3 separate regions of the Homo sapiens genome follow, and all the other regions are linked to region 1. Evidence: fine-mapped QTL for protein levels in blood plasma. A gene starts in region 1. Each other region holds a variant in brackets. All regions are shown on one strand. Distances are from middle to middle.

Region 1 (7,865 bases):
GGGCTGGGGCTTACTTGAAGGTTCCCCCGAAGGCCGCGTGCATTCTGGAGACAGAGGCCTGGCAGGAGACATTGGACACTTTCATCCGTCCAGCGGGATCCCGGGAGAGCTCCAGACCAGTGCGGATGGACACACCCTCAGCTGAGGCGTTGATGTAGCCCCCATCATAGCTGCCAGGGGGGTTAATATTCACTCCAGGTAGGAGCTCAATTGAGTCTTCAGTGCCCCCATGCATCACCATACCTCTTAATAAGGTTTCACCTCTTTCCACACATCCTACCAAACCTTCCTATCAACTCGTATGAAATGCATATGCCTGTTTCTGTTACACAGATGAAGAAACGGAAACTCAGGAAGGCTAAGGGGGCTGCCCACAGCCCCACAGCACCTCCAGCCCTCCTGACCCACTCTCCACTCCCCTGAGGGTGCTGGGTCCTTACAAGAACCAGTAGAGCAGCTGTCTCCGGAAGCGCAGCCCCAAGGAGGCATTGGTGATTTGAAGCATCAGCTCCTGCTGTGGCTGGAAATCGAGCTCGGAAGATGTCAGTTGCAGCTCTGTGACCTTCACCCTACAGGAGGCCTCAGGGTCAGATCCAGGGCCAAGAAGAGGGAACTTCCCCCAACGACAGGAAATTTGTCTGCTCCCCTTTCAAGTCCAGGCCTGGGGAAGCGGGAGTGGGTGGAATGAATTCTTCCATTGTCCCTCAAGTGCCCAACTTAGACTTGGGTGGCTCAAAGTTGAACTTGGGTGGCTGAGAGAGGAGGTCTTCCTGATCCAGGTGTTAAAAATGAGCTTCACCCCATCGCTTAAAAGTCTTGTTTGTTTGTTTGCCAGGTGCGGTGGTGGCTCATGCCTGTAATCCCAGCACTTTAGGAGGCCGAGGAGGGCGGATCACTTGAGGTCAGGAGTTCGAGACCAGTCTGGCCAACATAGTGAAACCCGTCTCTACCAAAAATACAAAACTTAGCAGACCGTGGTGGCACGCGCCTGTAGTCCTAGCTACTCGGGAGGCTGAGGCAGGAAAATCGCTTGAACTCGGGATGCGGAGGTTGCAGTGAGCCAAGATCGCGCCACTGCACTCTAGCCTGGGCAACAGAACAAGACTCCCTCTCAGAAAAAAAAAAAAAAAAAGTCTTGTTTGCTTGCACCCCCTCCCCTCCCACACCCTGGGGTTGCTACACCCGGTCTTTTAATAGAGTCCGTTCACTTTGCCTCCATCACCTAAGCTCCGTCTCACATCTCAATTCCTTATTCCCCCTCCCTCATCCTAAACCATACTTAGAGCCTTCAGTTTCTCCACCCCTCCGATTAACTCCACCCCGTGCCCGAGACTCCACTCTCATCTATTGGGAAGTTCCTTGACTCCACCTTTCTGTTGTTCTTCGACCACGCCTCACATCCACTGGTCCTGCTTCCTTCTTGGCCCCCTCTACATTTTCAAGGCCACGCCCATCTGCCTGGTCCCGCCTATGATGACTGGCTTGGCCTTTATCTTTTCGGCCCCATCCGGTTTCTTAAGTCTTGCCTCATCGATTTGGCCACGCCCCATCCCACTCAGCCTCCAGTCTCCCGAGACCCTGAGATTTCTCGGGCCCCGCCTCCACCGCCGAGGCCCCGCCCCGGATCGCGAGGCCCCGCCCCCCACTTACTCAGAGATGTTGTAGTAGAAGTGGCCTTCTTTGCCCCGCAGGTCCGGAATGGTGATAGTCTCCAGCTCTTGCTCCAGAAAGCGCAGCCCCTCCTGCTTCACTGAAGCAGCAGAGAAACCCTTACTTAGCTCCCGTGCCCACTGTTGGGGCGACCCCAACCCCGTCCGCTCCCGTCCGTCCCTGTCTGCCCCTGCGCCTTACCCAGCTCCAGCGCCTTGGAGGTGACGCGGATCTTGCAGCCTGGGAACTCTGCATGTGCGCCTGCCAGCAGCGCTAGGAAGAGGGCCCCGAAGAGGGCCATGGCGAGCGGGCCTGGGGGTGGGGTGGGGTCGCAGGAGTTATCTGAGCCGCTTAAACCCATTCCTTGGACGTCCAACCATAAGTGGGAACTAGCCTGGATCGTTACCCTCCAGATAACTCTTCGGGGAACTTGGAACCAATAATCTTGCCTCCATATGGCAGATGTGGAAACTGAGGCTCAGAGAGGCGATGCGACTTGCGTTCTGGCTCCCAGAGGATTTGGGACACGGGGGAGGGGACGTTCCCAGTTCCCTCGTGCTACCGCCGCGTGATGAGTTTGGACCTCCAGGGGACCAGCCCCCACACCCCCAACAACCTCCCCTTTCCTTTAGCGGTGGGCCCATGCAGGCTTGCACGTTGCCACGGCAACGACTGCACGCGCATTCTTGGAGGGTGGCTTGCGGTCTCCTAGGCCTCGCGCCCGGGGAGGAGAGGAGGTGGCCGACCAGACCGTGGGCTCCCGGGTCTCCCGGCTCCCTCAGGTCCTAAATCTCTCCCATTAGAGATTCTGCCTGGAGCCCCCATGTTAGCGTTCTCCTTCATCGGCTCTCCTCCCCACGCCGGCTTCAGTGCACCACGCGGCTCGGCGAGGGACTGGGAACGGGATAGGGACGCGCCCCAACTCACTCAGCGGTGGAGCTGGGGGGCGGCGCGGTCACGTGGGATGGCGGGCAGCTCAGGGGATCCGGGCGACGGGGTCTGGCGGGCAGGGTTGTTCCAGCCGCCTTTATAAAGCCGGCCTCCCCGACCCCTCCTCCTCTCTGCAGCTCTCCCCTCCTCCCTTGGGGGCTGGGAGGGGACGGGGCGGGACGCTGGCAGCCGGGAGAGTGGAAAAGGCTGCACAGAGCCCCGTGACAAGCCCGGCCGCTGTCTGGACAAGTGGGAGACCCAAGCCCAGGGAGAGGGAAGGAAATGCAGGAGCCGGCCCACTCAGCCCCAACAATCCCACTTTGCTGGGACCTTGGTTCAAATTACAATTATCCATGTCTTCCTGCATGATCTTGGGCAAGTCACTTCACTTGGGTCACTGACCCTCAGTTTCTTCCTTCAGCGAAATGTGCACGATGATAGGAACTACCTCTTGGGCCTTTATTACAACCAGGTCCAGGCACAAAGTCAAGGAATATTTTTTCTTTCCCTGCCACCCACAATCATCTCGGGACCTCCTTGCCTGGCTTTGCTATGGGCCCCCCTACCTGTCTCTGTGTCACCACCTGGGGACCTTAAGGTCCCAGAGACCTTTCCCACTTGGGAAAGCAAGACTAGACAAGTGCTGTCAGCCCAGGAACATACCACACCGGCTGAAATCAGAAGGAGGTCTGCCATTTATCGTGGCTGGTGGATTGTTTTTTCTATTTTTTTTATTTTTATTTTTTGAGACGGAGTCTCGCTCTGTCCCCCAGGCTGGAGTGCAGTGGCGCGATCTCGGCTCCCTGCAAGCCCCGCCTCCCGGGTTCACGCCATTCTCCTGCCTCAGCCTCCCCAGCAGCTGGGGCTACAGGCGCACGCTGCCACGCCCGGCTAATTTTTTTTGTATTTTTAGTAGAGACGGGGTTTCACCGTGTTAGCCAGGATGGTCTCGATCTCCTGACCTTGTGATCCGCCCGCCTCGGCCTCCCAAAGTGCTGGGATTAAAGGCATGAGCCACCGCGCCCGGTCCACTGGTGGATTTTTTAATGAACCCTTGGAGCAAGGTGCTCTGAACAGCATCCCCGCCCCCACCCCCACCCCCACCTCCATCTACTGCTTACAGGGTTCCCGGACCCTAGGACAGGGCACAGAGTGGGTGCTTGCCACCTTTTTGTTGCCAAATGGACGAAAGAAAGGGGAAGCAATAATCATGTCTGCTGAGCATGTATTTAGCACCAAACACTCATCTAGGAAGGATGACTAACTCATCCTGATTTGCCTAGGACTTTCCCCATTGTGTCTTTTTTTTCTGATATAATCCACAGATTCACAAAAATAGTTCCATTTCCTTTTTTATTTAATTAATTAATTAATTTTTTTGAGACACAGTCGTGCTCTGTCACCAGGCTGCAGTGCGGTGGTGTGATCTTGGCTCACTGCAACCTCTGCCTCCTGGGTTCAAGTGATTCTCCTGCCTCAGCCTCCCAAGTAGCTGGGACTACAGCCATGTGCCACCACACCTGGCTAATTTTTGTATTTTTAGTGGAGACAGGGTTTTGCCATTTTGGCCAGGCTGGTCTTGAACTCCTGCCCTCAAGTGATCCGCCTGCCTTAGCCTCCCAAAGTGCTGGGATTACAGGTGTGACCCACCATGCCCAGCCTATTTATTTATTTTTATTTATTTATTTAAGATGGAGTTTCTCTCTTGTTGCCCAGGCTGGAGTGCAATGGCGCAATCTCGGCTCACTGCAACCTCCGCCTACCAGGTTCAAGCAATTCTCCTACCTCAGCCTCCCAAGTAGCTGGGATTACAGGCACCCACCACTACGCTCAGCTAATTTTTTGTATTTTTAGTAGAGATATGGTTTCGCTATGTTGGCCAGGCTGGTTTCGAACGCCTGACCTCAGGCAATCCACCTGCCTTGGCCTCCCAAAGTGCTGGGATTACAGGCGTGAGCCACCGCGCCCGGCCGCCTATTTATATTTTTAGAGACAGGGTCTTGCTCTGTTGCCCAGGCTGGAGTGCAGTGGTACAATCACGGCTCACTGAAGCCTCCACCTCTTGGGCTCAAGCGATCTTCCCACCTCAGCCTCCTGAGTAGCTAGGACTACAGGCAGGTGGTACCATGTCATGTCCAGCTAAGTTTTGTATTTTTTGTAGAGACAGGTCTCACCATGTTGCCCAGGCTGATCTTGAACTCCTGGACCCAAGTGATCCTCTTGCCTTGGGCTCCCAAAGTGCTGGGATTACAGGCGTGAGCCACACATCCAGCCATCCCCATTTTGAAACCATTCCTGGGAACCCACTCAGTCCCTGGGAAACCTTACAACTGGTCATCCGAATTCTAGGTAATTTATTTAACCTTAACAACCTGTCAGACTGGCACTATTATGAACCCTCTTTAACAGGAAGTAGAGGTTGAAGCAATTCTGTGGCTGCTATTAGGGAATCCGTAGACTGTTCATGGAAGAGTGGAAGGTGGGCTTTATAGCCCGGTAGTTATGTACTTAGACTCTTGTGTCTGACAGACAAGAGTTTACACCCCAGGTTGTCAGTTCTTAGGTGTATGACATTGATCCCTTGCTTAAGCACTCAGATCTTCAATTTCCTCATCCTAAAATGGAAACAATAATTTAAGGTTATTGCAAGAATAAATGGGCCTGGTACATGACACATCATTAGTGCCAAATAAATGCTAGCTATCTTAATTAGGGGCACATACCACGAGCAAACAAAGCAGAAAAGGTGTAGAGGGAGAACAGAGAAAGTGTTAAGAGTATCCAGAGGAGGAAGTATCTGTGTTCCTTTGAACTCTAGTAACCTTCCTAGAGCCTGGCTCAAGCAGAAAACCTGGTGGATGTTAGTTTTCTTTCCTCTTATTTCCTTTCTTTTCTTTTTTTTTTTTTGTGGGGTGGAGTCTCGCTCTGTCACCCAGGCTGGAGTGCAGTGGCACGATCTCGGCTCACTGCAACCTCCACCTCCCAGGTTCAAGTGATTCTCTTGCCTCAGCCTCCCGAGTAGCTGGGACTAGAGGCGCCTGCCACCATGCCCAGCTAATTTTTGTATTTTTAGAGACAGGGTTTCACCGTGTTGGCCAGGTTGGTCTCGAACTTCTGACCTCAGGTGATCCGCCCGCCTTGGCCTCCCGAAGTGCTGGGATTACAGGCATGAGCCAGTGCACCTGGCCCTTTTTTATTTTTTTTTAACAACAACAACAAAATACATTTTATTTATTTAAGATAGGGTCTCACCATGTGCTCAGGCTGATCTCCAACTCTCGGGCTCAAGCAATCCTCCCACCTCAGCCCCCCAAGTAGCTGGGACTACAGGTGTGCACCACCATACCTGGCTGTTTTCTCTTCTTTTCTTTCTTTTTTTCCCTCTTTTTTGAGAGAGGGTCTCATTCTGTTGCCCAGACTGCTGTGCAGTGGTGCAGTTACGGCTCACTGCAGCCTCAACCTCCCCAGGCTCAGGTGATCCTCCCACCTCAGCCTCCTGAGTAGCTGAGACTACAGGTATGTGCCACCATACCCAGCTAATTTTTGTATTTTTCACAGAGATGAGGTTTCACCATGTTGCCCAGGCTGGTCTTGAACTCCTGAGCTCAAGAGATCTACCCACCTCAGCCTCCCGAAGTGCTGGTGTTACACCACATCTGGCCTTTCCTCTCGTTTTCTTTTTCTTTTTTTCTTTTTTTTTTTTTTTTTTGAGACAGAGTCTTACTCTGTCACCCAGGCTGGAGTGCAGTGGTGCTGTCTCGGCTCACTGCAACCTCCACCTCCCGGGTTCTAAGCGATTCTCCCGCCTCAGCCTCCAGAGTAGCTAGGATTACAGGCACACACCACCACAGCTGACTAATTTTGTATTTTTAGTAGAGATGGGGTTTCACCACGTTGGCCAGGCTGGTCTCGAACTCCTGAGCTACCAAAGTGCTGGGATTACAGGCGTGAGCCAGTGTGCCCAGCCTTGCTCTCATTTTCTTAGGTGAAATATTTCTCGCTATATTGCCCTTGCTGGTCTCAATCTCTTGGCCTCAAAAGATCCTCCGATCTTGGCTTCCCAAAATACTGGTATTACAGGCGTAAGCCACTGTGCCTGGCCTCACTCTTCCTGGCTTTGAAGACTGAAGGAGAGGCTTCCCAGCAATCAAAGGGATGGGAAAGAAATGCTTTTCTAGCCTCAGTTGTGTACCCAGATGAATCCAGGCTTCATCTTTGTATCATTTTTATCTCTTAAATGGTCTTGTCCCATGCAATTCACTGGCCAGTGGCCTAACCCCTCTGGATCTCAGTTTCCTCATCTGTAAGATGAGGATGATCCAGGTACCTCCCTCTTAGGATTGCTTGTGAGGATTAAATGAGTTAATGCATTGAAAGGGTTTAATAAGTACTTGGCATTTCCTAAGGGCTCAAAAAATGTTACCTACAATCATTAGCATGATCAGCCATCAGTGGCTTTTCACCATACTGGAATAGACTCCTGCCTCAGTACCCTGATTCCCTGGCATGTGATAGGGCCTACTCTCTCTGTCTCACCTCTCACCTCTCTTGCCCTTTGCATTCGGCTCCAGCCAAACTGGTTTTTCTGTTCCTTGAATGTGCAAGTTCTTCTTGCTCAGAGCCTTTGCATTTGCTGTTCCCTCTACCTGGAATGCTTTTCCACCTGATCTTCCTTGTCATTTTGTCTCAGCTTATTTTATTTATTTATTTTTTGAGACGGAGCTTCGCTCTGTCACCCAGGCTGGAGTGCAGTGGTATGATCTCGGCTCACTGTAAACTCTACCTCCAGAGTACAAGCAATTCTCCTACTTCAGTCTTCTGAGTAGCTGGGATTACAGGCGTGCACCACCACGCCCAGCTAATTTTGTATTTTTAGTAGTGATGGGGTTTCACATGTTGGCCAGGCTGGTCTCGAACTCCTGACCTCAAGTGATCTGTCCGCCTCAGCCTCCCAAAGTGCTGGGATTACAGGCTCGAGCCACCACGCCCAGCATTTTGTCTCAGTTTAAATGGCGTTTTTTCAGAGAGGCCTTCCCTGCCTGCCTATCTATTAATCGCTCTCAATCATATCAGCCTGGTTTATTTTCTTTATAGATTTTATTACTATTGAATATTTTCTTTCTTGTTTGTTGTCTGTCCCCGTGAGAGCTGGAATTTTGTTCAACACTGTGTCCTTAGTGCCTAGAACCATGCCTGGCACACAGTAGGTACTGACTAAATATTTACTGAGTGATTGAACTGGTTTGGAGTCCTTGAATGTCCCTGGGCAGCAGGCGATCCCTATG
Region 2 (8,182 bases), 9.6 kb after region 1:
CCTACCTCCCTGGGTGGCAGTGAGGATTTAAAGTGATAAAGTATACAAAGTGTGGAACCTAGTACTTGGTGGCGGGGTGGGGCGCTCTCACTTTGTTGCCCAGGCTGGTCTAGAATTCCTGGGCTCGAGCGATCCTCTCGCCTTGGCCTTTCAAAGTTCTGGGATTACAGGCATGAGTCACTGTGCCTGGCCTGATTATTAGTATTAATAGTTGTCATAGTTGCTTAACAAACAGAAAGTGCTTTTTTGAGACAGGGTCTCACTCTGTTACCCAGGCTGGAAGGCAGTGGCACGATCATGGCTCACTGCAGCCTCATCCTCCCTGGGCTCAGGTAATCCTCCCATCTCAGCCTCCCGAGTAGCTGGAACTATAGGCATGTACCACCATGCTCAGCTAACTTTTAAAATTTTTTTGTAGAGATAGAATCTCACTGTGTAGACCAAGCTGATCTCAAACTCCTGGCCTCAAGCGATCTGCCTGCCTCGGCCTCCCTAAGTGTTGGGATTACACGCGTGAACCACCACACTTGGCCAGAAAGTGCTTCCACATATTAACTCACTTACACTTCATAACATCCTACAAGATAGGTATCCTCACCCCCAGTTTACAGATAAGGAAACTGAGGCCCAGCAGTTATAAGCTCAAGTCAGTCTGGCCCCAGAGCCTATGCTTGTAACTAGGTTTCTCTCTCTGTCTCTCTCTTTTTCATTATCCCATGTAACTCTCACAGCAGTGCCTTGAGATAGCTATTATTGGCCCTGTTTTGCAGATTTGGAAACTGAGGTTCAGTACGAGGAAATAACTGGTCCAAGGAAGTAAACACGGGCTCCACTGACCACAGGAGGCCAAGCTGGATTGCTGCCCAACATGTCAACATGCACTGCTCTGGCCCCCTCCTCCCTCGCTGTGCCTCCAGCTGTGTTTTCTTTGGATCTCTGCATGGCTTGGAGAAGCTGCGTCAGCCCATCTCCTCTCCTGCCCAGTCCCCACCCCCAACGCCCACCCCAGCTACCCCTCAGGGAGTGACCCCCTTCTCCTCACTCTGCCTGAGCATATGAGCACTGCAGCTCATGCGCCTGTGTTGGTCAGCATGGGTGCACCTGGGGACATGTGACAGGGGACCCAGCTGGAATGAGAGGAGGATTATCTGAGGAGGACAAATCTCAGGCCAGGAAGACCCCGATTACATCTCTCCAGACAGGCGAAATGATCATCTGTTTCCAGAATGCAACTGGACAAAACAGTCCGCGTGAGGGCTGGACATTTACCAAATGGGTAAAAGGAATCTAAAAGGGCTGGGGCTTGCTGAGTTCAGCCAGGCCAAAGCTGTGGACTGACTTTCCGTGATTTCTAAAGCTGGGAGATCTGTTGTTTTCTTCTTTCTTTCCCATTTCCTCCTTGAAGGCCAGTCCATTTTCTGTGTGAAGAACAGGCCACTTGGTGTCTGAAGTCACCTCCAGATTAGAAACTCAAGGATTCTAAGGTTCCTTATGAGGTGTTGCTTTCCCTGGGTCCTCGGTCCTAGGGCATTGTATCCCCACACCTGGTGCCTCTCCATCAGGGCTCGGATGTCAGCCTTGGGCAGCTCACTCTCTCTCTGACTTCCCTTTTCTTTTCTTCTTCATATCCCACCCTTCTTCCCAGTTTCTATGCCTCTGTCAGTCTGCTAGCTGACTCTGACTCATGGGGACCTCTTTCTGTGGTCCTCTAAGCCTCCTAACCGTCTGTGCTTTCCTTATACTCCACGTGGGCTTTCCAGCCTCTACTTGTTTTGAGGAAGAGGTGGAGGATCCATAGCAGCTCTGTCTAGATGTTTGGATTTCATAAGCCAGTCACAACATTTCAAAGTAAGTGAAGGGAGGGGGCCCCAAAGGAAGGGATTTTTTCCTTTGATAATAAGGATAGGCCACCATCTTCAGCCTAAGCTTGTCCCTTTTCTGCAGGGCTTGCTGAAATGTTGCAAGAAGTGGTCAACATAATGCAACTCGAATTTTTCCAGGTGTCCTAATACTGCAGGAGTCCCCCGCATAACCCAGGCTTTGGTCTAACAAGATTGCCAACCCCTAGCCAGGAATCATGAGGATGTCACCGCCCTCTGGCCTTCTTCCTCTCTTCCACCCAGCTAGATCCATATTTTAGCTCCCCCCCAACCCTAGCAAGTACCAAATCCTGCTCCTTTTCCAAGCTTCCCCATCACAGGTCATGGCACCAGCTTTATGCAGTGCTCAAGTCAAAAATATAGGAGTCATCCTTGACTTCCTTTTTTTGTTATACCCCACATCAGCAAATCCCGGTGTCTCTAACTCCAAAAGACGCCTCACCTTATGCCTGTAATCAAAGCACTTTGGGAGGCTGAGGTGGGAGGATCACTTGAGCCCAGGGGTTCAAGACCAGCCTGAGCAACATAGTGAGACTTTGTCTCTACAAAAAATAATTAGCCAGGTGTGGTAGCATGCGCCAATAGTCCCAACTACTTGGGAGGCTGAGGTGGGAAGATCGCTTGAGTCCAGGAGGTCAAGGCTGCAGTGAGCTGTGATTGCGCCACTGCATTCCCGCCTGGGCAACAGAGCGAGACTCTGCCTCGAAAAAAAAAAAAGATGCCCCACATCTATACAATTCTCTCTATCAGCACCAACACCACTTCAAGCCATTTTCATTGGTTACCGGGACAACCTGCCTTATCTCCCTGTCTCACCATTTCTCCTGTAGGTCTAGCCTCTCTACATCAATCTAAGTGATATTTTTAAAAATGGGAATCATAGAATTTTTCTATCCTGCTCAACATCCTCCCCATCACACACAAAATAAAACCCAGACTCTGGCCACGACCTCTGGAAACACTGCAGGTGAACTAGCTCCTGCCTACCTTCCTCTCCAAGCCCATCTTCTACCACTGTTGGGAACACACCAAGTGCCTTCAGCCTCAGACTTTCCTTAATTCTTTTCTCCACCAGACACATCATCCCACACACATACCCATGCAGAGTTACTCAGATCCCTACTCAAATGTCACCCCCACAGAAGAGGCCCCCTCTGTGTCATTACCTGTCATTCTGTTTGTTTAATTCTTTATTGCCTGTTTCTTCCAGTAGACTGCAAGCTCCCCAGGGCGGGGACAGGAGCCTGCCACTCTTATTCATGGCCATATGTCCAGTGCCCAGCACAGGGTCTGGCACACAGAAAATGCTCAATAGATGTTTGTTGAATTCAAGATGGCCGGGCACGGTGGCTCATGCCTGTAATCTCAGCACTTTGGGAGGTCGAGGCAGACAGATCACGAGGTCAGGAGTTCGAGACCAGCCTGGCCAAAATGGTGAAACTCCGTCTCTACTAAAAATACAAAAATTAGCCGGGCGTGGTGGCACACACCTGTAGTCCCAGCTACTTGGAAGGCTGAGGCAGAAGAATCACTTGAACCTGGGAGGCAGAGGTTGCAGTGAGCTGAGATCACACCACTGCACTCCCGCCTGGGCAAGAGAGCGAAACTCCATCTCAGGAAAAAAAAAAAAAAGATGTTTGTTGAATTCAAGATGGGGTGTTATTATCATCCCTAGACCCTTCAGAAGGAGCAGCTTTTATGGTGCACTCTGTAGCCCTGATCTAATCCCCGGCTGAGCCTCTAAGCTCTATGCTTTCTGCTGGTACCACCCATTTCCTTGCATTTAGCCGGGGTTATCTGGAGCTGGTCTGCAGCCAAGAATGTCATACTTTCCTAATCTCCCCAGAGGCCTGAGAGACGCCTAAGGTCATGGGAGGTGCCCCCACAGGATCTCAGTGGGCTGAGCAGAAATCGGGACTCCTTGACCTAACCCACCCCCAGGCCCCTTCTACCTCACCTTCCAGCAGGCTCACGCCTGTAATCCCAACACTTTGGGAGGCCATGGTGGGCGAATCACCTGAGGTCAGGAGGAGTTCGAGACTAGCCTGGCCAACATGGTGAAACCCCAACTCTACCAAAAATAAAAACATTAGCTGGGTATGGTCGTGGGCACCTGTAATTCCAGCTACTCAGGAGGCTGAGGCAGGAGAATTGCTTGAACCCAGGAGACAGAGGTTGCAGTGAGCCAAGATCGCACCACTGCACTCCAGCCTGGGCGACAGAGCAGGACTCCATCTCAAAAAAAAAAAAAAGTTGAACACAAATTTACCATACAGCAATTTCGCTCCTAAGGGTCTACCCACAGAAAAGGAAAATGAATGCATTTGTACATGAATGTTGATAGTAGTGTTATTCGTAATAGCCAAAAGGTGGAAACAAT[T/C]CAACTATCAATTGGTAAACAAATAAAATATGGTATATCTGTATAATGCAACACTATTCAGCAATAAAAAAAGAATCAACTACTGATATATGCTTCAAAATGGATGAAGCTCAAAAACATAATGCAAAGTGAAAGATGCAAGCTGCAAAAGACTACATCTGTGTGATTCTATTTATATGAAATGTTCAGAAAAGGCAGCTCTATAGGGACAGAAAGCAGGCCAGTGGTTGCTGGGGGCTGATGGTGGGAACAGGAACTGACTGCAAACAAGCCCAAGAAATCTTTTAGGGTAATGGAAATGTTCTAAAACAGAACTGTGTTGACAATTGTATAACTCTATACATTTACTTAAAACAAATTTTATTTATTTATTTATTTATTCATTCATTTTTGAGACAGAGTCTCTCTCCTTCCCCCAGGCTGAAGTGCAATGGTGCAATCTCGGCTCACTGCAACCTCCGCCTCCTGAGTTCAAGCGATTCTCCTGTCTCAGCCTCCCCAGTAGCTGGGATTACAGGTGCCTACCACCACACCTGGCTAATTTTTGTATTTTTAGTAGAGACAGGGTTTCACCACGTTGGCCAGGCTGGTCTCGAACTCCTCACCTCCACCCTCCTCAGCCTCCCAAAGTGCTGGGATTACAGGCGTGAGCTACCGTGCCCGGCCTATTCATTTACTTATTATTATTATTTTTAGTAGAGACAAGGTCTTGTCTGGGTTGGTCTCTAGCTCCTGGGCTCAAGCAGTCCTCCTGCCTCAGCCTCCCAAAGTGCTGAGATTATAGGTGTAAGCCACTGTGCCCGGCCAGAATTGTATATGTATTTATTTATTTATTTATTTTTGAGACGGAATCTCTCCCAGGTTGGAGTGCAGTGGCATGATCTCAGCTCACTGCAACCTCCACCTCCCTGGTTCAACGATTCTCCTGCCTCAGCCTCCCAAGTATCTGGGATTACAGGCGCCCACCACCACGCCGAGCTAATTTTTGTATTTTTTTTTTTTTGAGACTGAGTTTTGCCGTTGTTGCCCAGGCTAGAGTGCAATGCGTGACCTCAGCTCACTGCAACCTCCGCCTCTCAGGTTCAAGGGATTCTCCTGCCTCAGCCTCCCAAGTAGCTGGGATTACAGGCATACACCACTGAGCCTGGCTAATTTTGTATTTTTAGTAGAGATGGCATTTCGCCATGTTGGTCAGGCTGGTCTTGAACTCCTGACCTCAGGCGATCCGCCTGCCGTGGCTTCCCAAAGTGCTGGGATCACAGGCGTGATAGAATTGTATACTGAAAACAAGTGAGTCTTGTAGTCTGTAAATTATACCCTAATAAAGCTGTTAAAAACATTTTCCTAGCTCGGGTTGAGATCTCTGGGTTAGATGTGTCCTGGGAACCCAGCTGGGACCCAGGCTGGGTGGGGTGTCCTCCTTTCTCTCCTTTCTAAGTCAGTTTTCTGTGATCTCAGACTTTCAGGAAGCTACCAGCTGTCGCTCTTGTTTCTTTTTTGAAGAAGTCTGGAATTCTGCAGACTCAGCTCATATGGGAGTAAACATCCTGGCTCTTGGCCACTCTGACTGAAGTGCAAAAATGAGCATCACGGCCGGGCACGGTGGCTCACGCCTGTAATCTCAGCACTTTAGAAGGCCGAGGCAGGCGGATCATGATGTCTGGACATTGATACTGTCCTTGCCAACATGATGAAACCCCATCTCTACTAAACATACAAAAATTAGCTGGGCATGGTGGCATGTGCCTGTAATTCCAGCTACTCAGGAGGCTGAGGTAGGAGAATCGCTTGAACCAGGGAGTTGGAGGTTGTAGTGAGCCGAGATCGCGCCACTGAACTCCAGCCTGGCGATAGAGCAAGACTGTCTTAAAAAAAAAAAGCGCATCACAGGGAATGGGTGGGAGAGTGGAGGGGACCACCACAGGTGGCCCACCCCTATCTTGATATGACCAAACGCCGCCTGGGATGCTGAGCACTAACCCAGAGCAAGGACTGAATTTGGACTCCAGGGTCCTGGTAGGACCTGCACCTCCCTTGCTCCCTGGCTGTGCTCAGGTTGACCAGCTCTCCAAACACACCCTCCCTTTCTATACCTCCAGGCCTTGGCACACGCTGTGCCCTCCCCTTTTCCTTGCCTACCTGGAAAATCTATTTTTCCAATAAGAATCTGTTCATTGTCATCTCCTCTGAAGCTTTCTCCTTTGTGTGCCCACCACCCCCAGCCCCTGCCATCCCTCCAGAGCCCTCATCTCCCTGTGGCAGAGGGTTCATGTATATGTCTGCCTCCCACACTGCTCTGTGGGCTCCCTAAGACAAACCGTCTGTCCGTCTTACTTATCGCTTATTCTCAAGACTCTAGGACAGGCCAAGGGAAGAAATGGAGGGAATAGTACACCACATCAGACGCTTCCAAGGCCAGGAAGACCAAGGGAGACGCCCCCATTCCTCTCATCTATTCTTGGCCTAAATGGCTTCTCTCATCTGGTCCCAGAATGGCCCAAGAGCCACTCCCTGTGGGAACCACAGTTTGGGGTGGAAGCCTCCTTTCCACAGCTTTCCGGGGGCCAGACCCACTTGCCTTGGAAACTCCCTTTGCATAATTTAAACTGCAGTGTAGGGTCCATGGCCAGCTCAAGCCCAGCCTAGGCGGGGGCAACCTGGAGTGGGATCCAGCTAGAGTCTCCCTTCCCCAGCTGCCAGGACCTCAGGGGATGAAAGTTCCCTCTCAGCAGCTTCTTGCTGCAGTGGCAGAGAACAAGGGGGTTAAGCTATGTGGCAACCTGAGCTGGTTGTTTATGTTTCTGCTTTAGTGTGGAGGCTTGGCTTTGTCCGGAGTTGAGGCAGGGGTCCTCAGAGGCCCTGGCAGCTAGTGACCAGCCAGGAGTGGTGACATAATTTTCAGGGCTAGGGCCGGACATGATGGGTCACGCCTGTAATCCCATCACTTTGGGGTGCCAAGGTGGGTGGATCACCTGAGGTTGGGAGTGTGAGACCAGACTTGCCAACATGGTGAAACCCCATCTCTACTAAAAATCTAAAAATTACCTGGACCCAGTGGCACGTGCCTGTAGTCCCAGCTACTGGGGAGGCTGAGGCAAGAGAATTGCTTGAACCTGGGAGGGGGAGGTTGCAGCGAGCCGAGATTGCACCACTGCACTCCAGCCTGGGTGACAGAGCAAGACGCTGTCTCAAAAAACAATATTCAGGGCTCAGGGCAAAATGAAAACGTGGGACTTTTGTTCCAAAATTATTAAGATTTTTAAGATGGTGACAGTAGAACATTAAACCAAACACAGACTTTTCTTTTTTATTATTATTTTTATTTTCATCTTGTTTTTATTTTTTGAGACAGGGTCTAGAGTGCAGTGGTGCAATCATGGCTCACTACAGCCTCGAACTCCTGGACTCAAGCAATCACCCCCTGCGTCAGCCTCCCAAGTAGCTAGGACTGCAGGAGCACCTACTATGCCCAGCTAATTATTACTATTATTATTTTATGTAGAGATGGGGTTCTATGTTGCACATGCTGGTCTTGAACTTTTGGCCACAAGCAATCCTCCCACTTTGGCATCCCAAAGTGCTGGGATTACAGGCATGAGCCTCCACACCCAGTAAGCATGGGCCTTTCTAAATCTATGCAGCCGGCCCTGGTGCCAGGGAGAGGAGCCCAGCTTATTCCAACCACCTCTCTCAGCCCAGACCTATTGTCTACCCAGGCTTCTTAGTTCAGAAAAGTAGCTGGAGAAATGGAAAGCCTTAGGATCTTTGCTCAACTGCTCATCCCTATATTGGGAATAAAAGACTCCAGGCTACTGACAGAGACTCGGCCACAGCAGGCAGCCCACAGGGTGCTGCCTTGGTGTTCCCACCACAGAAACCAGAGCCTGGAATAGAAACGGGGATACCTGGCCAGGCACAGTGC
Region 3 (8,182 bases), 67 kb after region 1:
CAGGAGGATGGAGCTGGTATATGGAACCAGGTCTGCCTCATTCCATAGTAATCATACACTTAGGCCGGGTGCGGTAGCTCACGTCTGTAATCCCAACACTTTGGGAGGCCAAGGCGGGAGGATCACTTGAGGTCAGGAGTTCAAGACCAGTCTGACCAACCTGGTGTCTACCACAAAATACAAAAATTAGCCAGGCATGGTGGCACATTGCCTGTAATCCCAACTACTTGGGAGGCTGAGGCAGGAGAATCGCTTTAACCTGGGAGGTGGAGGTTGCAGGGAGTTGAGATAGTGCCACTGCACTCTCGCCTGGGCGATAGAGACTCCATCTCAAAAATACAAAAACAAAAACAAAAGCAAAAAAAGAAATACCTTAAATTACTCTGTGCCGGTCACCATTCTAAGTGGTTTATTTACATTCATTTATTTATCCTCACAACCACCCTATGAACCTACGAAGTGGTTGTCATTATTATCTCCATTTTACATATGAGGAAACTGAGGCACAGAACAATAAAAGAATCTACCTAAGTAAAGGATGGAGCTAGGATTGAAAACTAAGCAATCTGTTAGGCTGGGTGCTGTGGCTCATGCCTGTAATCCCAGCACTTTGCGAGACCGAGGCAGGTGGATCACCAGAGGTCGGGAGTTGGAGACCAGCTTGACCAACATGGAGAAACCCCGTCTCTGCTAAAAATACAAAATTAGCCAGGCGTGGTGGCGCATGCCTATAGTCCTGGCTACTCGGGAGGCTGAGGCAGGAGAATTGCTTGAAAACCCAGGAGGCGGAGGTTGCGGTAAGCTGAGATCGCACCATTGCACCCCAGCCTGGGCAACAAGAATGAAACTCTGTCTCAAAAAAAAAATTATTAATACTTTTAAAGACTGAGCTGTTTAAGAATTTTTGGGGGAATGTTTCTAGCAGTGACTTTTTTTGGCCTTTTTAACATAATGATAGTGTAAAGACAGGAGCCTTACAACTTAGTCAAAGCATTTCATGTGCAGTCCTTCTTCTATCTCCTTAAAATATGTATTTATTTTACATACAGACTTTTACACTAACTATTGAAAAATAAAGTAGGATCTGCTACAGTTTCCCCTGAAAATTTATAAAAAGTGTTGAGATTGTTAGAAGGCAGTTTTTAATACAGGTGCACTACCCTAAAAGACTTGTCTATTGTCAATAAAGTATTTGTGAAATTATTATTTCTGTTCAGAAATACTATTTCTTAAATCTCCTGGGAATTTGTGGCATACTAAAGCACATTCAAAGTTCTAATGTGTTTATGAGCTCATTTTCAAAATAGTAAGTTTGTCATCTTTAAAATGAACGTAACTTGCTTCCTTGATTTCTGAAATGAATTAACTGAAGATTGCTATAGTAATCTTTATTTCATCTTTCTAGAGTTGTTGGCAATTTTTTTATACAACAGTGACCATTAGAGAAGGGGGGAAGGGATTTTGGGTGTGTATTTGTAGGTACTAAGGGATTTACTAAATATAGTAGAGCACTGTCACACTTGTTCAAGTAGTTTCAAACGTAGAAAATTAAGTATCAGAGGCAGGTATAGGGAGCAATGTAGTCTTTTTTTTTTCTTCAATTTTAAAAATTTTAAATTGTGGTAGAAGCAATGTATCCTTAAGGTGAAAAACCTACCTCAGTTACATGTGGTTTGTGTTTTCTGGATTAATCTGGATTTTATAATTAGAAATAAAAATGTAAGATTTTGAATCCACTTAATAATTTCTTGAAAATAATACAAGTCAGTGTAATAGAGAAGCATTCATATATTCAACACTGTAAGACAAAACAGCAGAGACCTTGGATTTGATAATTGATCTGATATCCTGGACAGTATTCATATGTACAGTGATAGGTATGTTTCTTTGGGGTTTTTTTGTGTGCATATGTGTGTAGTTTTATCGTTCTGAGTTGGTGACCAGTAAGTTCCATGTAGTGCTGGCACTTATTTAATAACTATTCATGATTTTGTTAATAACTTGTTACAGGATTCAGGCATATATTTTCAGCATAAGAAGCCAGACACACCAGCTTGTCATTGGAGATAATATATTAAGTGAGAAAAACATTCAGGAATCAGAACTTTAACATGTTAAAGTTAGTGCTAAACATGGTCATATTGGGTCTGAACCTATCCTAATATGTAACCATAAAGCTTGACTTTTGCATTGGAACTATGCTTTCATAAATAAAGGATATCCCATGGGATTGTAATTGTAATCCCATATTATCTGTAATTGTAATTCCCATATTATCTGAGAAGTAGTGTGACACCTTTCTTTTGTTGTTACATTAAGCTGAAAACATAATACTAATAGACGACTAACAGTTTGCTTATCAGGCACATCAACTAAGGCACCTCCCCCCATGCTAAGTTTCTCCTGGATATATGGAAGTTGGTTGTTTCCCAGTTTAAAAACTTGAACTAATATTACCTAAGAAAACCTGAGCCCATATTGTTTTTATTTTACTTAGCTAGAATCTCATAGCATGTTAAAGTCATACCTTATCCCCACTAAAAATAACTATGTCTATGTGAGAGGAATATTATGTGTGGGAGCTGTATTAAATACTATTATAGGTGTTACAGAATCTTTAAATAAATGGACGTGGACCAACCTTCCATCTAGTAGTGTACGATCTATATAGTGCATGTCAGTAGCACAAAATGCAGTCTTAGTTAGCATTAGCCTGTCTAATCTGAATAGTTTACTCAAAAGTACTTCTTTGTGTTAATTATTCAGCCATTGTTTTTAGATCTAGTTAATAGGTTCTATTTAATTTGCTGCAACATTTATTGAATGGGTGAGTGAAAGAACTGATGCATATTGGGAAATATCTTACCATTTTTTAAAGATAATGTTACATTAGGAAAAGAACACTTTTAAGGAATTTATAGCAGTGATGAAATGAATTCAGTCTATATCAGATACACCAAACTGTTGATGGTATTTAAATGTGACTGCAAGTTAGTATTTCTGTATATATTATTGATTACTGGTTTGTTTTTAGATATGTAAGTCTGTCCTAATCTACGGTTCACGTATTGACAGTTGCTCTGGTAATAATAGAATGTTAGTGATGATCACTTGGTGGATGTTGATTAAGTGCCTGTGTTTTGTTTTGTTTCCTCCTCTGGATACCAAATAGGTGTATGCTACTTTTTTGGTGAACTTATTTCTTGGAAGATTTGGTTATGCTATTCAGGGTTTTTATTCTTATGTTTTTCTTCTAAACTTAAGCAGCATCCTGCTGCTACCATATTAAAGCTCAAATTTAACTTTTGTGGAAAAATCAGCTAATTCAGGTAATCCAAATATTTGTGGAAAAACATCTGGGTAATTTATTGACCACATTAGTATTGTGTAGACAGCTTTGATTATTCCCATTGCATAGGTTTTTATTGTAGAATAGTCAACTTAATATAGATTCACTTTTAATTTACATGTATAAAGTAATACTCAATAAAAATTTTTTCATTTATTTAAAAAAAAGAAAACTAAGCAATCTGGCTCTAGACTCCATACTTTTAGATTGCTGTACCATTTCTCATCATAATGCTTGACTCTTAGGTGATATTTTGTCTTCTCCTGAGTCAGGCCTGGTGGTTACTATTTTCCCATTTTACAGATGAGGAAATTGAAGCCCAGAGAGGGGATTTGACTTGCTCAAGATCACAGAAATTTTCTGGTGTAATGGAAGGGGCTGTGAGCCCAGGCCAGATCTCCTGCAGTAGATAATAATCACACTAGCAGTTTTTAATTAATTTATTTATTTTTTTGAGACAGAGCATCGCTCTGTCGCCCAGGTTGGAGTGCAGTGGCGTAAACTCGGCTCACTGCAACCTCCGCCTCCCGGGTTTAAGTGATTCTCCTGCCTCAGCCTCCCAAGTAGCTGGGATTACAGGCACGCGCCACCACGCCCAGCTAATTTTTTTGAATTTTTAGTAGAGACGGGGTTTCACCATGTTGGTCAGGCTGGTCTCGAACTCCTGACCTCGTGATCCGCCCACCTCGGCCTCCCAAAGTGCTAGGATTACAGGAGCGAGCCACTGCGCCCGGCCACTAGCAGATTGTTTGTTTGTTTGTTTGTTTGTTTTTGGCTTTTTTGTTTTTTCTTTGAGACAGGGTCTCACTCTGTTACCCAGGCTGGAATGCAGTGGTGCAAACATGGGTCGCTGCAACCACTGCCTACCAGGCTTAAACAGTCCTCCCACCACAGCCTCCCAGGCAGCTGGGACTACAGGTACGCGCCATTACACCCAGCTAAATTGTTTTGTATTTTTTGTAGAGATGGGTTTTCCCCATATTACCCCGGCTGGGTGAATGTTTACTGGGTACTTACCAAGTATCAGGGGATGCATTCAGTGTTTTGTATGCATTTTTATTTTTATTTTGAGACAGGATCTGGCTCTGTTGCCCAGGCTGGGGTGCAGTGGCAGACCCTGGCTCACTGCAACCAGTCCTCCCAAGCTCAAGTGATCCTCCTACTTCAGCCTCCTGAGCAGCTGGGACTACAGGTGCACACCACCACACCTGGCAAA[G/T]TTTTGTATATTTTTTTGGTAGAGGTGGGGTTTCACCATGTTGCCCAGGCTGGTCTTTTTCTTTTTTAAGATGGAGTCTCGTTCTGTCGCCCAGGCTGGAGTGCAGTGGTGCAGTCTCGGCTCACTGCAGCCTCCGCCTCTCAGGCTCAGGCGATTCTCCTGCCTCAGCCTTCGAGTAGCTGGGATTACAGGCACGCACCACCATGCCCGGCTAATTTGTATTTTTAGTAGAGACGGGATTTTGCGGTGTTGGCCATGCTAGTCTCCTGACCTCAGGTGATCCACCCACCTCAGCCTCCCAAAGTGCTGGGATTACAGATGTGAGCTACCTTGCCCGGCCCTATGTGCATTTTTAAACTACAGTCACAACAGCCAGAGATATTAGATGCTCTCTGCATTCCCATGTTACGGATGAGGAACCTGAGGCCCCAGAGCAGTGACTGTCTGAGGTCATGTGCTTGATCGTCAGCAGAGGTAGGATTCAAACCCTGGCTTACTGACTCCCAGTCCAGTGCTCCTCATGTTGCACCAGATGCCCCGGAAGGGCAGCGGGGTTGAGAGTAGGCAGCCAGCAGGTGGGTCCGAGGGTTCATCTCTACCTGCTTTCTTCATGTCACTGCTGTCTATGGGTTTAGCTAACCCTGTTTTTAAAAACCTATTTATAGCTTAAGACTGTACCACCACTTGGGATAATGAGTCCCTTAAGTTGACTTCCCACGGTGTAAATTAAGATTTCCTTCTATTTGTCCTAAATCTTTCTCTTTCAGTATTGGAGGGGGATGGGGTAGTGGGGAAATGCCCTAGGGCCACAACACTTGGATTTAGAAAATAGGCTGAATGGGCTGGGTGCGGTGGCTCATGCCTGTAACCCCAGCACTTTGGGAGGCCAAGGTGGGTGGATCACCTGAGGTCAGAGTTTAAGACCAGCCTGGCCAACCTGGCGAAACCTCGTCTCTACTAAAAATACAAAAATTAGCTGGGCATAATGGCGGACGCCTGTAATCCCAGCTACTCGGGAGGCTGAGGCAGGAGAATTGCTTGAACTGGGGAGACAGAGGTTGCAGTGAGCCAAGATTGTGCCACTGCACTCCAGCCTGGGCCACAGAGCAAGACTCTGTCTCAAAATAAATAAATAAATAAAATAAAAGAAAAAGAAAATAGGCTGAAGTCCAAATAGTATTTGACTGTTTGTATGTGATGGTAATTCCTGACACCAGGCAGCAGGCGACATGTATGGAAACATCTCATCTGATCATTACAAAGACATAAAGGGTAGGCAGGGCCTGGATTTTTGTCTCCTTTAATCTGTCTTGTTTCCTGTGGTATCCTCACCATTGAGCACATTTTGGAGATACAGGTAGATACTAGATAGCTATTTGTTCTATGAATGAACCAATGAACCCTCATTTTATAGACAAGGAAACAAAGACCCAGAATATCAGGGGTCTAGCCAGGAAAACAAGACTTCTACCACTACTAGATGATTCCAAAGAGGGAATTTAGGCCAGATGAAGTGGTTCACGCCTGTAATCTCAGCGCTTTGGGAGACCAGGGTGAGAGGATCACTTGAGGTCAGGGGTTTGAGACCAGCCTAGGCAACATAGTGAGACCCTTGTCTGTACAAAAACATTGTTTTTTTTTTAATTAGCTGGGCATGGTGGCATGTGCCTGTAGTCCTAGCTATTGGGGAGGTTGTGGTGGGAGGATAGCTTGAGCCCAGGAGTTTGAGTCTGCAGTGAGCTATGACTGCGCCATTGCACTCCAGCCTGAGCAACAGAGCAAGACCCTGTCTCTGCCTCTAAACACATACACACAAGACACAACACAACACACAGAGGGAACTTAATGTGGAGAATTAGCTACAAAGTTGTTTTATGGGTAGAAATAGCAACCAGGGGAAGTTGAGGCAAACCTGAGATTAGCAACTTCATGAAGCTGCTACCTCACCCAGGGCTGGAAGTATTCATATCAAGGGAGGAGGTAGCATTACTGGAGACCAGCAACTGGGGCCACCCTGAGAGAAGCTGGAATCACAGCAGGTCTGTCTAGCAGGAGCTGAACCATGAAGGAGTCATTGCAACTGCTAAAGATCCCCCCACCCCATCCTTCCCGAAGACGAGAGAAATGGAGGAGAAAGACCCTGGCTTCTCCCTTCTTTCTCTCCAGTCTCTCACCAGGACTTCCCATTGGCCAATCCTAGCCAAAAGCCAGTTGGCAAGGGAGTCCAGGAAACATGGTTTGCAGGGATTAGCCTCTGCTGCACGGAGCAGAGCAGAAGGGCAGAGAATGGATTTGAGACAAACAGAAAAATTACCTGGCCCAAATTATCCCATACCTAGGAAGGATTGCATTGTGTATGCATTGTCAGGCAGTGCCCCTCCCCCAAGTCCATGTGACCTTTTTAGTCTCTTTATCTTTCTATGTCTGCCTTAAGTATCACCTCTTCCAGGAAGCCTTCTTCCCAGCAGAGCTGGTATTTCCCTTCAGCGCGTTCCCCTAGCATGCTCTGCCTACCTCTGTCACAGAACACACACCACCGTGAGATGCTGCCAGTTACCTGCCAGGCTCCTCGATGGACGGAGCCTCCCAAAGCCAGTCCTGAGTCTGGTTTGTTTCTCTGCTGAGCAGAAAATGATTGTTGAATGAGTCAGCTGTTGGAAGGATAACATGGGGCAAGGAACTCTAGAGTCAGACCAAACTGAGGGTCCACAAGTCTCAGTCTCCTCATCTGTAAAACGGGAACTTTGAGGAGTAAAAGAGAGAATGCGTGGCAGTGCAGTTAAGCTCATAGGCTCTGGAATCAGAACATCTGCAGTCAACCCCCAGCTCCGCTTGGAGTTACTTAACTTTCTACTCCTCTGTTTCTCTCTTATAAACTAGGGATGATATTAATATTTCATATGGTATCTGTGAGGATTAAATTAAACTGTGTGGAAAACAGTGCAAGTGCTTAATAAATGTACCTAGTATTATTATGTGTGGTGCCTAGTCACATGCCTGAACGTTGCATAGGTAAGAGGATATATATCAAACAGGGAACTTTCTTTCTTTCTTTCTTTTTTTGAGATGGAGTCTTGCTCTTGTCACCCAGGTTGGAGTGCAATGGTGCGAATACAGGCGTGAGCCACCGTGCCCGGCCTTTAATTTTTAATTAAAAAAAAATAGAGATGGGGGTTTCACTATGTTACCCAAGCTGGTCTTGAACTCCTGGCCTCAAGCAGTCCTCCAGCCTTGGCCTCTCAATGTGTTGGGATTACAGGTGTGAGCCACCGCACCTGGCCAGGATCTTGTCTTTCTTGTTGACCACTGTAGCCCCATTACCAAGCATAGTCACTGAAACGTAGTAGGTGCTTAGTCAATCTTTGGGGTTGTTTTTTAGGACAGGGTCTTGGTCTGTCACCCTGGCTAGGGTACAGTGGTACAAACATGGCTCAGTGTAGCCTTGACGTCCTGAGCTCAAGCGATCCTCCCACCTCAGCCTCCCCTGCTCCCAAGTAGCTGAGACCACAGGCCTGCACCACACGAATTTTTTTTTTTAATTTTTTTTTTTTTTTGAGACGGAGTCTCGCTCTGTCGCCCAGGCTGGAGTGCAGTGGCGCGATCTCGGCTCACTGCAA

Which allele goes with the higher level. Positions count from the first base shown, and alleles are read on the strand shown. Strength reflects both the effect of a copy and how common the allele is. Not every link is listed here.
As copies of T replace G in region 3, the plasma level of the protein whose gene starts at base 2,654 in region 1 goes up (moderate association).

What was found. PIP is the posterior inclusion probability: the model's chance that the variant is causal. The UK Biobank Pharma Proteomics Project read protein levels with antibody pairs (Olink). The fine-mapping took linkage between variants from a reference panel, not from the people measured, so its PIPs are less certain.
Region 2: its variant is fine-mapped to the plasma level of the PLTP protein (UK Biobank, PIP above 0.99).
Region 3: its variant is fine-mapped to the plasma level of the PLTP protein (UK Biobank, PIP above 0.99).

Annotation. Positions count from the first base shown.
Region 1 is chr20:45,909,502-45,917,366 of GRCh38, forward strand. PLTP (phospholipid transfer protein) reads right to left here and starts at 2,654. Exons shown (of 16, transcript NM_006227.4): 1 at 2,578-2,654; 2 at 1,852-1,962; 3 at 1,651-1,750; 4 at 441-569; 5 at 15-170. The coding sequence starts at 1,951.
Region 2 is chr20:45,918,956-45,927,137 of GRCh38, forward strand. No RefSeq gene overlaps it. Among named protein-coding and RNA genes, the nearest start is that of PLTP, 11 kb to the left of the region's middle. RefSeq lists a silencer at 5,615-5,909. The variant T/C (reference allele first, on the strand shown) is at 4,261.
Region 3 is chr20:45,976,391-45,984,572 of GRCh38, forward strand. No RefSeq gene overlaps it. Among named protein-coding and RNA genes, the nearest start is that of ZNF335, 8.3 kb to the left of the region's middle. The variant G/T (reference allele first, on the strand shown) is at 4,566.